Linked DNA regions of Homo sapiens. The protein of the gene in region 3 interacts with the protein of the main gene of each other region in a biochemical or structural test. Each region holds a gene or a part of one and is shown on either strand. Other genes may lie near its edges. The genes, in order: MAPK9, FLI1 and ELK1.

Region 1 (3,750 bases), on a different chromosome or scaffold from region 3:
CAACTCTGCATTAAACACTCAGTGTGTCAGGAAAGTCAGGCTTCCTTGGGGTCTGTTTCCTTATTTGTTCAATGCAGACATTACCAGCTTTGCCTATTCCACAGGGTGCTTGTTAGGCTTGGGATAATTAGGATTACATGTGGGAAAGTGACACTGAAACTGTACTCGCTATACAAGAGAATGCAAGTGAGAAAAAAATAGCATCAACAGCAGCTTAAAAAAGTGCTCACTGAGGCATGTCTTAGAAAAATGAACTTACATCACCATGAAATAACCTAGGGAACTGGTACATGAACTCAGTTCTTCCAAAATGTTATACTTCCAAAAGACCCGCTCAGGAAATGTGTTTCTGGCATTCAATTCACTAGCAAATTCTCCTTCCTACTCCTGGTTCATACATATTGTCAAATCAGAATTATGCCCACATTTTATTTACCTATTTAGCCAAAATGTGAAAACTGTCTCACACCTTTTCCTTCTGCCATATATACATATATAAATAAAGACAGAGTCTCGCTCTGTCGCCCAGGCTGGAGTGCAGTGGCATGATCTCGGCTGACTGCAACCTCCACCTCCCGGGCTCAAGTAATTCTCGTGCCTCAGCCTCCCAAGTAGCTGGGACTACAGGCACCTGCCATAACGGTCGGCTAATTTTTGTTATTTTTAGTAGAGATGGGGTTTCGCCATGTTGGCCAGGCTGGTCTGGAATTCCTGGCCTCAAGTGATCTGCCTGCCTCGGCCTCCCAAAGTGCTGGGATTATAGGTGTGAGCCACTGCGCCCAGCCCACCTTATACTTTTGATACCTCTTCTGCCTGCTCACTCCCACAGACTTCCCAGGATGCACCCACCCAGCATCTGTGTGCCATTTGCCACACAGCAACCATCTGGGCTCCCGGCTACACTAAGCCTGCTCAGCTCTAGACCCTAACCCCCCTGACTCAAGGACAAGCTCCCTCAACTCTTCCTTCTCCAACATCATCGACATTTTGCACTCTACCAATACATTCCACCACGTTGGTAAATGATGGTGTTTTCTCCTATGTTAACACAGTAGCTGCTTTCCTTTGGCCCTACCTATCGCTTTATTTCTTATTCCTATTTGCAGCAAAAACTTCCATAAAGAGCTGTCGGTCGGGCTCAGTGGCTCACACCTGTAATCCCGGCACTTTGGGAGGCCGAGGCAGGTGGATCACAAGGTCAGGTGTTCAAGACCAGCCTGGCCAAGACGGTGAAACCCTGGCCCTACTAAAAATACAAAAATTAGCCAGGCGTGGTGGCGGGCGCCTGTAATCCCAGCTACTCGGGAGGCTGAGGCAGAAGAATCGCTTGAACCCAGGAGGTAGAGGTTGCAGTGAGCTGAGATCGCATCGCTGCCCTCCAGCCTGGGCAATGGAGTGAGACTCTGTCTCAAAGGAAAAAAAAAAAAAAAAAAGGAAAGAAAAAAGAGCTGTCTACACTTGTGTCTCTAATTCCCAGCCTCTCATTTTCTCTCAAACATACTCCCATCAGGCTTTCTTCCCTCCACTCCATAAATGCTGTGCCCATCATGGCTGCCAGCAGCCATCACAAGGCCCAGGGGCCAATCCCCCGTCCTCATCTCCTCATGTGAATGAGCCTCCCTCAGTCACCACACTCTAGGAGGAGGGGTCACGTGAGTGCCTTCTCCATTTCCTTCCCTATTCCCTTTGTCCCTCCACCTCAAGGGGGCTAAGTCCCGGGTCCTGGTCTCTTCCTCCCCTGCAAGTGCTCGCTACCAGTCCTAGGCTTCAAGGCTACCGACAGACGGATGACACCCACTTTGATCTCTCTATCCCAGACCTTGCCCCTAAATTCCACTGTCTAACAGACATCTCCAAACCCTAGCAAGGCTCCTTGAAGGGTCCAGCTTCAAAGCAGAGTACAAGCCCATCTCCCCGGCCACACCCCTACCCGCCTGCTGGGGGCCTCCACCTCTCCTCTGGATGATGGCAGCCTCTGCTCTGTTCTCCTGCTCTGCCCTGCCCTTGACGATCCACCCTCAATTCAGCAGCTGGGAGGAGCCTCTTTGCATCTCAGTCAGACTAGGCACCCAGAAATGGGCAGGTGAGAGAAATATCTGCTGGGTTAATGATAAAGGACTAGAAATTAAACCAGTTGTGAGAGGAGACCCACAGATTCCCCGAGAGGACTCCACCCCAGCATCCTACAGGTGGGAGGGATGGGGGACAGATGAGAGGGACGGGGGAAGGGGAACAATAATTCCGACAAGCCCAGTGGACCCTGTTGTCTAACTCTCGTGAAGCTGCAGGCAGACCACAGGTCTATTTTACAGAAGGGGAAACCAAGGCTCAGAGAGGCCCTAAATTTCTCAAGGATGCATGGCTGCCAAGGGGAGGAGTCTGAGCTGGGGCCCGAGGTGGCCGGGCTAAAGCTTTCTCTTTCTCATAGACCACCGCAGGGACAGGAGTTCCTTTTCTACCCTGGGTCGCAAATTAAAGCAAATCTCTGAGACCCTCAGTCTGATTTCTGCAACTTTTTTCTATCTCCCAAATTTCAATCTAATATTTGAAAGAGTTGGCAAAATTTTCTTTAGAAAATGATGTTAAACTCTGTGTGGCTTTTGGGAATAACATTAGGTAACCTTATATATAACACTATTAATTACTGACATTAATGTTCATATGTATAGCAGGAATTTTAATTTTACTTACTAAAATGCACCAAAAAGTACTCACATTTTTCATTTTTGTACTTTTTGAAGAAAACATTTTGTAATAAAACAAGGAATGGCACAAAATGAGTAAGAATTGAGACAAACTGAACATTAAGTAGATATTTCTAAATTATTAGTCTTTTAATTTTTCAACTTTTCCCTTTTTAATTAAGTTTACTTGCAAAATAAAGACGTCCTTATTTATAGGTTGCAACAAGTGAATCTGAGATGAGGCTATGGAAACTGCTAGAAAATTTAGTAGAACAAATAAAATAACTTGACATATTATATAATCTATGATATAGAAAATGTAAAGAAAGGTAAATAAAATGAGAGAAATAAAAATATTTTCACTTTAAGTTTGCACTGTGAAGAATTTATAAGGAGACCACTTTGATAAAATTATTAAAATCTGAAATTATTTTCCTAAGATACATACAAAACACTGACTATGGAGCTTGATTTCCTTAAAAGCAACCATCAATCTGCCCAAGGATGGAGACCAATTTAAACTTTCATAACGAAAACAAAGTCAAAGACTAATGAAAAACTAAGTGGTTAAAACACAAATGAAAAAGGGAAGATGTGAAGAACCATGTTAGGGTAAAAAATACTGAGGATGGAAGAATGGCAAATGAGGAAAGAAGGCTATTGTAACAATTAGAGTAGTTATTCTCCTTTCTGCTGTATCTCTAACATGACTTGCTGACTACAGTATGAGTTTATCTCTTTCATTTTACATTTATTTTGACTTCCCCAGTGTGTCACAAAATAACCCACTAGACAGATTTTTAAAAAAAATTCTACAAAATGTCAGCACAGTAACAAACAAGAAAGTTTAACATATTGTTCCTCACAAAATTTTCATTTTAATCTCTTTCACTTAGGTCCTTTGTAATGTGCTTCAGTTCTTACTTTGGGGGAAAATATTTCAATGCATACCAGTAACTAACAAAATAGTACTTAATTAAAGCACACAAGCACACTAGCCTATTAAATTTAGATAGCATCTTTCCTAGTTAAATTAACGGAATAAACTAAATAATACAGTATTTTC
Region 2 (3,750 bases), on a different chromosome or scaffold from region 3:
CAAATTCAATTTTACACCATATATTTTATTTATTTTATTATTTCCTCCCTTGCTTTGGGCTCTGCAACAATATTATTACTCTCCCTCTACAGCACAATGAATTATAAATCTTCAACTCTGGATCATGCTAAACTCTTCCAAATGCATTTCCTGGATGATTTAGTCCTAGTTTCTTCCCATCTGAACATGGAGCTAGTGATTAACTAGGGCCCACATTTATACTTGTCTTTAAATCCCATCATAAATTCAATCGGTTATTCCACTAATATTTTATTGCCTTGATTTGTGGACTTGCCCAAATGAGACTTCCCCTCATATCCACAGCCTGGCCTGGAGGAAGCCAAAATGTGTGAGGACCTAAAAGATCTAGCCGGAGCTAAAATAATGAAGTAAATCCATAGCCTGAAAGTGCTTTGAAAATCATTTGACATGAATTTGTTTTATTTTCACCACCAGCGCTATAGGTAACTTGGCTCAGCCAAGCCTGATGTTTTGCTATTCCTTTTGAAAGCATTTCAACACTGATCAAAGAAAGTTTGGAGGGTCGACATAGCAGTCTGGCCACTTCTGCCCATTTCCAAGATTCCTTCCCCAAAATGACGACCAAAATGAGATGGTGCCAAAGGTTGGTTCAAAGACAATCTCAGATCCCCAAACCCTTCAGTCCAGCAAGCTTTCCCTCCCAGGCTGGGAGCTGTTTGACTGAAGCAGGGGAGTTTGAAACCATTTGAGTGAAGACCCAGTGAGGCTCAGCTTTGCTTTGGGCTGTACAAAGAGATTCCCACCTGTCAGTTCTAATACAGTTTCATTGTCTGCTTTCAGTGAGGAGGGAGACGATACACCTGGGCTAAACATTACTAGCTGGTCTCCTGTGACAGGTGTTTTAAGTAATGCCATGGAGATAAAGCAATTTACGTGGTGCCTGGCACCTAGAAAGCACTCAATAAATGGAAGTGATTCTTCCTCTTCCTTTGTTAGGTCAGATGCTTGTGGAAGAGCAAACTTAGAATTGCTTTAGGAGTCATTTCTAAGTCCTAAAGGGTACAGAGAAATTTCTACAAGCCCCACCCGTCTGCTGCCTCACTCTTGCTCACACCTTCTTGAATTTGGCCCAGAGCACAGGGAGGCAGCTGTAATCCAGGGATATGGTGAGATGCAGCTTCCCAGGGAAAACAAACACCACGGGCCAAGGCAGGAGGCAGCCCTTAACATTTCTGCCTTTAGACCTACAAGCAGATGCCTTCGGACTACCTCAAAGAGATGTCTAACCTTTTGACTTCAGAGGCAACTACATTTATGCTTTTACAAATGGAAGGAGTTTTGCCTCTCTGGTAAAGTTATTTTGGTAAGATCAGGTTTAATCCCTGCCCTGTAATCACTTTGCTTAAGATTTGGACATCCTTGCCCCTTCTACCTGGCACCAGTTCTACACGTGGCAGTTTGTAAACACCCTTCTTGTGCAGGCAGCTGAGCTTGCTGGTGCTAGCTGGGGTGGAGTGTCCAGCCAATGGACTGAAGGACTGAACGATGATTTTATTTTCTGGGACCAACAGCACCAACACCTAGGAAAAAGAGGCTATTTTTACCTAATGACATAACTTGTGGCACACATGTTAAGGCACTCCATTAGTTAAATATAGTTCTTTCTATTTTAAAACTGAAAGAGCTGGCTGTAATTTTGGAAAGGTGGAACCTGGTAGATGCCGGGAAGTACGAGCCTGGAGGGAAGGACTGGCCTCTGCAGCTGACCTCCTCCTCACAGGCAGGGATGCCCACATCCAGAGCTCACGGGATTCCTTTTGGGTGGAGGCGGCCTTGCCTCTGCTCTCTGAGCAGCCCGTCCTTGAGGACCAGGCCATTGATGTAGAGTCTGTGATGTGGTCTGTTTAAGGGTGGGGCTTCTAGCACCCACACATCAGGTGACATCTGGGATACTGCCTTAAAGGGCAGCTAGGAAGTCAGGTAAAATGTGCAGCTTTTTTTTTTTTTTTTTTTTTTTGAGACAGAGTCTCATTCCATCACCCAGGCTGGAGTGCAGTGGTGTGATCTTGGCTCCCTGCAACCTCCGCCTTCCCGGTTAAAGCGAGTCTCCTGCTTCAGCCCCCTGAGTAGCTGGGAATATAAGCGTCCACTACCACACCTGGCTAATTTTTGTATTTTTTTTTTTTTTTAGTAGAGATGAGGTTTCACCACGTTGGCTAGGCTGGTCTTGAACTCCTGACAAGTGATTCACCCGTCTTGGCCTCTCAAAGTGCTGGGATTACAGGCGCGAGCCACCACTCCCGGCTGGCGTGCAGCTTTCTCCATTTTGCAATTCCACAGGGAATAGAGTATCAGATAAAGGTTTAGATGCTCCCTGCCCCCCCAGAGAGTGGGGAAGTGAATGGCGCCCAGGCAGCCTGGTTCTCGAATTACCTGCGGGGACGATGACTCTCCTCTCGTTGGTGGTCATGTTGGGAGGAGGGGGGCCATTCTTCTCGTCCATATAGCTGTTGTAGTTCATGGGGTTGGACTCGCCTCCGCCCACCAGCTTGCTGCATTTGCTAACGCTGCAGTCCACCGGAGACTCCCTAAAGTGAGAAGAGACAAAGCCCAGAGGCGGTCAGCACTGACAGGGCAGCTTGCCTCAGCCTCTGAATCATGAGCCCAGGGCTCCGATGATGAGCATGGAGCCATTGCCCGGCCACACTTGGTGTCATGATGATGATGATGCCCTCTTTCTATCCTCCATGCTGCCACCAGAGTTTTCTTCAAATCCCAGCCCAATCCTATAATTACAGTACGTAAAAACTGCTGGCAGCGCCTCAGTGCCCTCAGACCAAGGTCTGAGCTTCTTTGTGTGGCATCGCAGCCCTCCCTGTCTGACTGCAGCTTACATTTTTAGCCTCACTGCCAGGCAACCTAGTCCATGCTCCCAGACACGCCTTCCCCACAGTCCCCCAGCACTTGGTGCCCGCCTTGGTTATAAGGACTTGTCACACTGTCTGATTCTCAGCTTGGCCTGCGCCCCCTGACTGCTGAGTTCTTGAGAGGATAGTCATCACTTTCTTTGTTTAACCCTAGTATTCTTACAGGAGGTGAGCAGCAAATGCTTTCTCAGTGAGTTATTTCTATTGCACATATATAAGTTTAATGCATTTCTTATGCACTGTTGTATTCGAATTTCCCAATAAGCCCCCAGGATAGGCACAGCAAGGGTTACTATCTCCTTTTCATGGTTAATGAAATCGAGACAGGGGCTGCCTGGCTCAGTCACACAGCTAGTCAAGGTGGAAACAGGACTCAGGTCTTCTGTGTTAAGCTTCACTATCAAGCACACATGCAAAAGAGCTGGTTGCTACTTGGAGAAGGAATGGAGTCCAGGAACTTCCACCTGATGGAGAGGTGGTGGCCCTGTGGCATTTTGCATCCCTGGCCCCAAGCTCACTGTGGAAGCAGTATGGACATTCACAAGAGAGAAAGCAGATCATCCAACTTAGCCTAGAACTACAGAACTTGATCAGCACCTGGTATTTTGCAGCACTGGTGATGGGCAGCTGTCTGGAGGGGTGAAGTCCCACCCATGGCCACCTGGCGCCCTGAAGCTGGCTGGCAAACACACTCTGCATGCCCTCCAGCCCAGCATCACGCACCTCCAGCATACTTGGGGGAGGTGCCACCCTGTCACACCCAGTGCCCGCTGCTCAGCCACTCCAGCAGCAGCAGGACCAAAGGAGACGATGGGAAGGCCAAGGAGAAGCTGTAGCCGCC
Region 3 (3,750 bases):
GTCAGGTTCCAGTTGACTAAGCATTTCACCATTAGGCTAAACGGCCCCTCACACCGACTATTCCCTCTCAGCATGTCCTTCAAAGAACAGGATCCTCCCTGTCACCCCATTACTGCTTTCTTTCCTGAGAGCAAACTGGAAATAAACATGAGCTTCCTGTTCAATTATACAAGTCACAAAGCCATGAAGTGTCCGATTAGAGAGTCCTGTCACCAGAGACCTCACTGAATTTGTTTTGCAGGCAGGCTTGTTTCAGAAGTCCAAAGAGTTCAGAGTGACTCCTGGTGGCAAAGACAGGCAATTTTACCAGTTCTTCTTTCAGCTGCAACAGAACCTATCAGCTGAGTGAAAGGTGACGGTGGGCTTCCAGCTTCAACAGCACACAGGGCTTTGTATTTTGTTATTTCTCCCACTTGACCCCTCATAAGAGTTCTAGTAATCTGCCTTGCTTAGATATGTTTACTTCTTTCCATCTCCTTCACTTAGCAAGCATTTGGTGAGTGCATACTGTGGGCCAGGTGCTGCGGATACAGTCGAGAACGCAACAGACAACAATCCCTGCTCCAGAGGAGCTCACATCTTAGCAGGAAAGGCAGATGAGAAAAAAGGCAAACATGTACAAGAGTGCGTCAGATGGTGGTAAGGGTTATGGGAAAAAAATCAAGCAGGGGAGAGCTGTTACTTTTACATGGAGAGTCAGGGGAGAGTAGTCGCCAAGGAGGGGACAACTGGGCAGAGACCAAAAGGAGGTGAAGGAACTGAGCTCGTGAGTATCTGAGAGCAGCAAGCCAGGTGGAAGCGGCAGCCGGTGTGAAGGGCCCAAGGCTGGAGAGTGCCTGGCAGGTGACATGGGGAGAGGAGGCTGACATGGGTTCGGGGGAGAGGAGGGAGGCAGCGGGAGAGGAGAACAGAGTGACGGGGGCCAGACTGAGCCAGGCTTTTTCGGGTGCTGTCAGGATGTTGAGTGAGACAGGAGCCACAAGAGGGTTGTGAACAGAGGGATGACAGGCTGTGACTGAGATTTCAACAGGATCCCCCTGGCGGTTGTGAGAAGAACAGACTGTTGGGGCTGAAGAAGCCACTGCGGTAGATGATGGTGGTAGCAGTGGGGCTGGCGAGAAGTAGCTGGGGTCTGGAGAAAGCCTGAACACAGAATAGGACTTGCTGACAGATAGCATGCCCGGGGGAGGTGAGAGAAGGGTCCAGGGTGAGTCTAGGTTTGTGGCCTAATCACCCACAAAGACAGCATTGTGGTCAGCTGAGGTGGGAGCCTTGCAGGAGAGTAAGTTTTGAGGGGGGTCACACCAGTTTTGGAGATGGTCAGTTTCAGAGGCCTGTCAGACATCTACGGGTATGCTATGAATACATTTTAATAATTTAAAAATGCAAGCCAGGCATACGATCCTTACCGTGGGCTGCACACTCTTTGAATCATTTAACTCATTGAATCCTCAAACCACCGTTAAAGGGTGGGGATTATCATTTCCCCCATTTTCCACATGAGGCAATGGAGGTACAGAGAAGTAACCTGCCCCAAGTCACACAGCTGGAAGTTGGCAGAGCCGGAATTCAAAACCTAAGTGGTTTGGCTCTAGTGAGCAATCGCCTTACACCACCAGTTCTCCATGAAGAGAAACAGAGAAGGGTAAGATCCTAGAGAGTGACAGGAATGCTGTTTTTACACAGGGTGTACAAGGAGTTCTTCCCCAAGGAAGTGACACCTGGCCTGAAGGAGGGGAGGTAGCAAGCCAGGCTGCCCTCTGTGGGGGAGGGCCTTCAGGCGGAGCGAACGGCGTGTACAAAGGCTCTGAGGCAGCCACCCTGAACTATCTACCGTTCCCGAGACAGTTCCAACCTCTGAGGGTAAGCACGGGCTGCTCTCCCCGCAGGGAGAGCTCTTCCCTCACTTCATGGACTCAATTACACAATCATCGCATTCCAGGAAGAATTCATTCTTCCTCTGCGTGATCAAAGGTGCCAAATAACCTGCCTGCCCTTGCAAATCTGTTCTTCTTTCTGAGTCTTCAGCCTTATGTTCCTCTGCCCCTGTTCTGGCTATTCTGGCTCAAGGTTACCCTGAGCAAGTTACTCAGCCTCTCTTTGCTTGTTTCCTCATCTGTAAAATGGGGATATTTTACTCTCAAAGTCAAATATTCTCAAAAGTACACCTACCCTCCAAGGCTTCTGTGAGGATTAACTGTGTCAATTCTGTAAAATACTTCTGTAAAAGACTTGAGGGGTTGACTTTTTTTTTTGTTTTTACAAGTAGCATTGTTAGGAACTTCTTTTTTATACATGTGCCTTTGTATAGTATATTCCAAGCACCATAGTGTTTAACAATGAATATTTACTGAAATAACACTACCCAGGTGCCAGAAAATCAAATCACTCTTAGAAACATCTTTTATGCCTGTGCCTTTAGGAGAGTGTATTATGCACACCACAGTGGTTATTTTTTGGGTTTTTTTTCGGAGACGGGGATCTCACTATGTTGCACAGGCTGGCCTGGAACTCCTGGGCTCAAGTGATCCTCCCACCTCAGCCTCTGTGCCCAGCTATACACCACAGTTTTGTGAACACATTCTTTCAATGCAACAACACAGTCCTTATTCACATATACAACTAGCACTCTTAGAAACAGCTTTTATACCTGTGCCTCCATAGAGCATATTACATACCTCAGTTTTGTGAACATATCCTTTTGAAAAGGAGGAAAATCCTTATTCATATATAAACTGGCATTCTTAGAAATATCTTTGACACATGTATCTTTTTGTAGTGCATTCCAGGCACCACCGTGTGGTAAACATCCTTTGGGGGTTGGTATTTGAACAGAAAAGTGCCTCTGATGTGTGGCAGATACTCCACAGATATTAGCTATTAGCTAGTGTGTCATCCTTCTCCCCCTGCCCCTGCAATCCTATCCTATGTATCACCTGCACTATCTGGCTCCCATCACCTGTGTGACCTCACCTTCTACCCTTCCCCGCACTCTGCTCCAGCCACACTGGCCGCCTTGATGTTCCTTGAACATGGCAGGCACCATCCCACCTCAGGGCCTCTGAACTGGCACTTCCTTCTGCCTGGTATGCTCTTCCCGTAGACATTAAGGCTCTCTCCGTCTCTACCGTGAGGCCCTAATTCAAGAGTCACCTTCCCTATGCCTAAGATTTCAACCACCCCCAATACTCGATTCCTACCTGCCCTATTTCATTATTTCTTCTCAGCATTTGTCTATTATGCTAATTTTACTTATTTATTTTGTTCACATAGTCTGTCTCCCCAGCTTGGGTTTTTTTTTTTTTTTTTTTGAGACAGAGTCTCGCTCTGTCACCCATGCTGGAGTGCATGGTGCAATCTTGGCTCACTGCAACCTCCGCCTCCTGGGTTCAAGCAATTCTCCTGCCTCAGCCTCCCAAGTAACTGGGATTACAGGCGCACGCCGCCACACCCAGCTAATTTTTTTGTATTTTAGTAGAGATGGGGTTTCACCGTGATGCCCAGGCTGGTCTTGAACTCCTGAGCTCAGGCAATCCACCCACCTCAGCCTCCCAAAGTGCTAGGATTACTGGTGTTAGCCACCGTGCCCAGCCTCCCCAACTTTTAATAAATGTCAGCTCCACAAGCACAAATATTTCGCCCTGTTTCGTTCCTTGCCATATTCCAGCACCTAGAAGAGTGCCTGGTACTCACAAGGGGCTCAGTAAAGGTTGGTTGCAGGAACAGTCCCAACTAATTAGCTCTCATATC

The links.
Region 1: of the proteins of ELK1 (region 3) and MAPK9, one has a biochemical effect on the other in vitro, tested with the Homo sapiens proteins (2 studies listed by BioGRID).
Region 2: the proteins of ELK1 (region 3) and FLI1 form a complex in vitro, tested with the Homo sapiens proteins (one study listed by BioGRID).

The regions. Positions count from the first base shown.
Region 1 is NC_000005.10:180,243,364-180,247,113, forward strand, and holds part of MAPK9 (mitogen-activated protein kinase 9), read right to left. Parts: exon of another isoform or gene 2,657-3,750; intron 1-2,656. UniProt on the Homo sapiens protein: Serine/threonine-protein kinase involved in various processes such as cell proliferation, differentiation, migration, transformation and programmed cell death.
Region 2 is NC_000011.10:128,766,938-128,770,687, reverse strand, and holds part of FLI1 (Friend leukemia integration 1 transcription factor), read right to left. Parts: intron 2,571-3,750; coding exon 2,416-2,570; intron 1-2,415. UniProt on the Homo sapiens protein: Sequence-specific transcriptional activator. Recognizes the DNA sequence 5'-C[CA]GGAAGT-3'.
Region 3 is NC_000023.11:47,643,869-47,647,618, forward strand, and holds part of ELK1 (ETS domain-containing protein Elk-1), read right to left. Parts: intron 1-3,750. UniProt on the Homo sapiens protein: Transcription factor that binds to purine-rich DNA sequences. Forms a ternary complex with SRF and the ETS and SRF motifs of the serum response element (SRE) on the promoter region of immediate early genes such as FOS and IER2.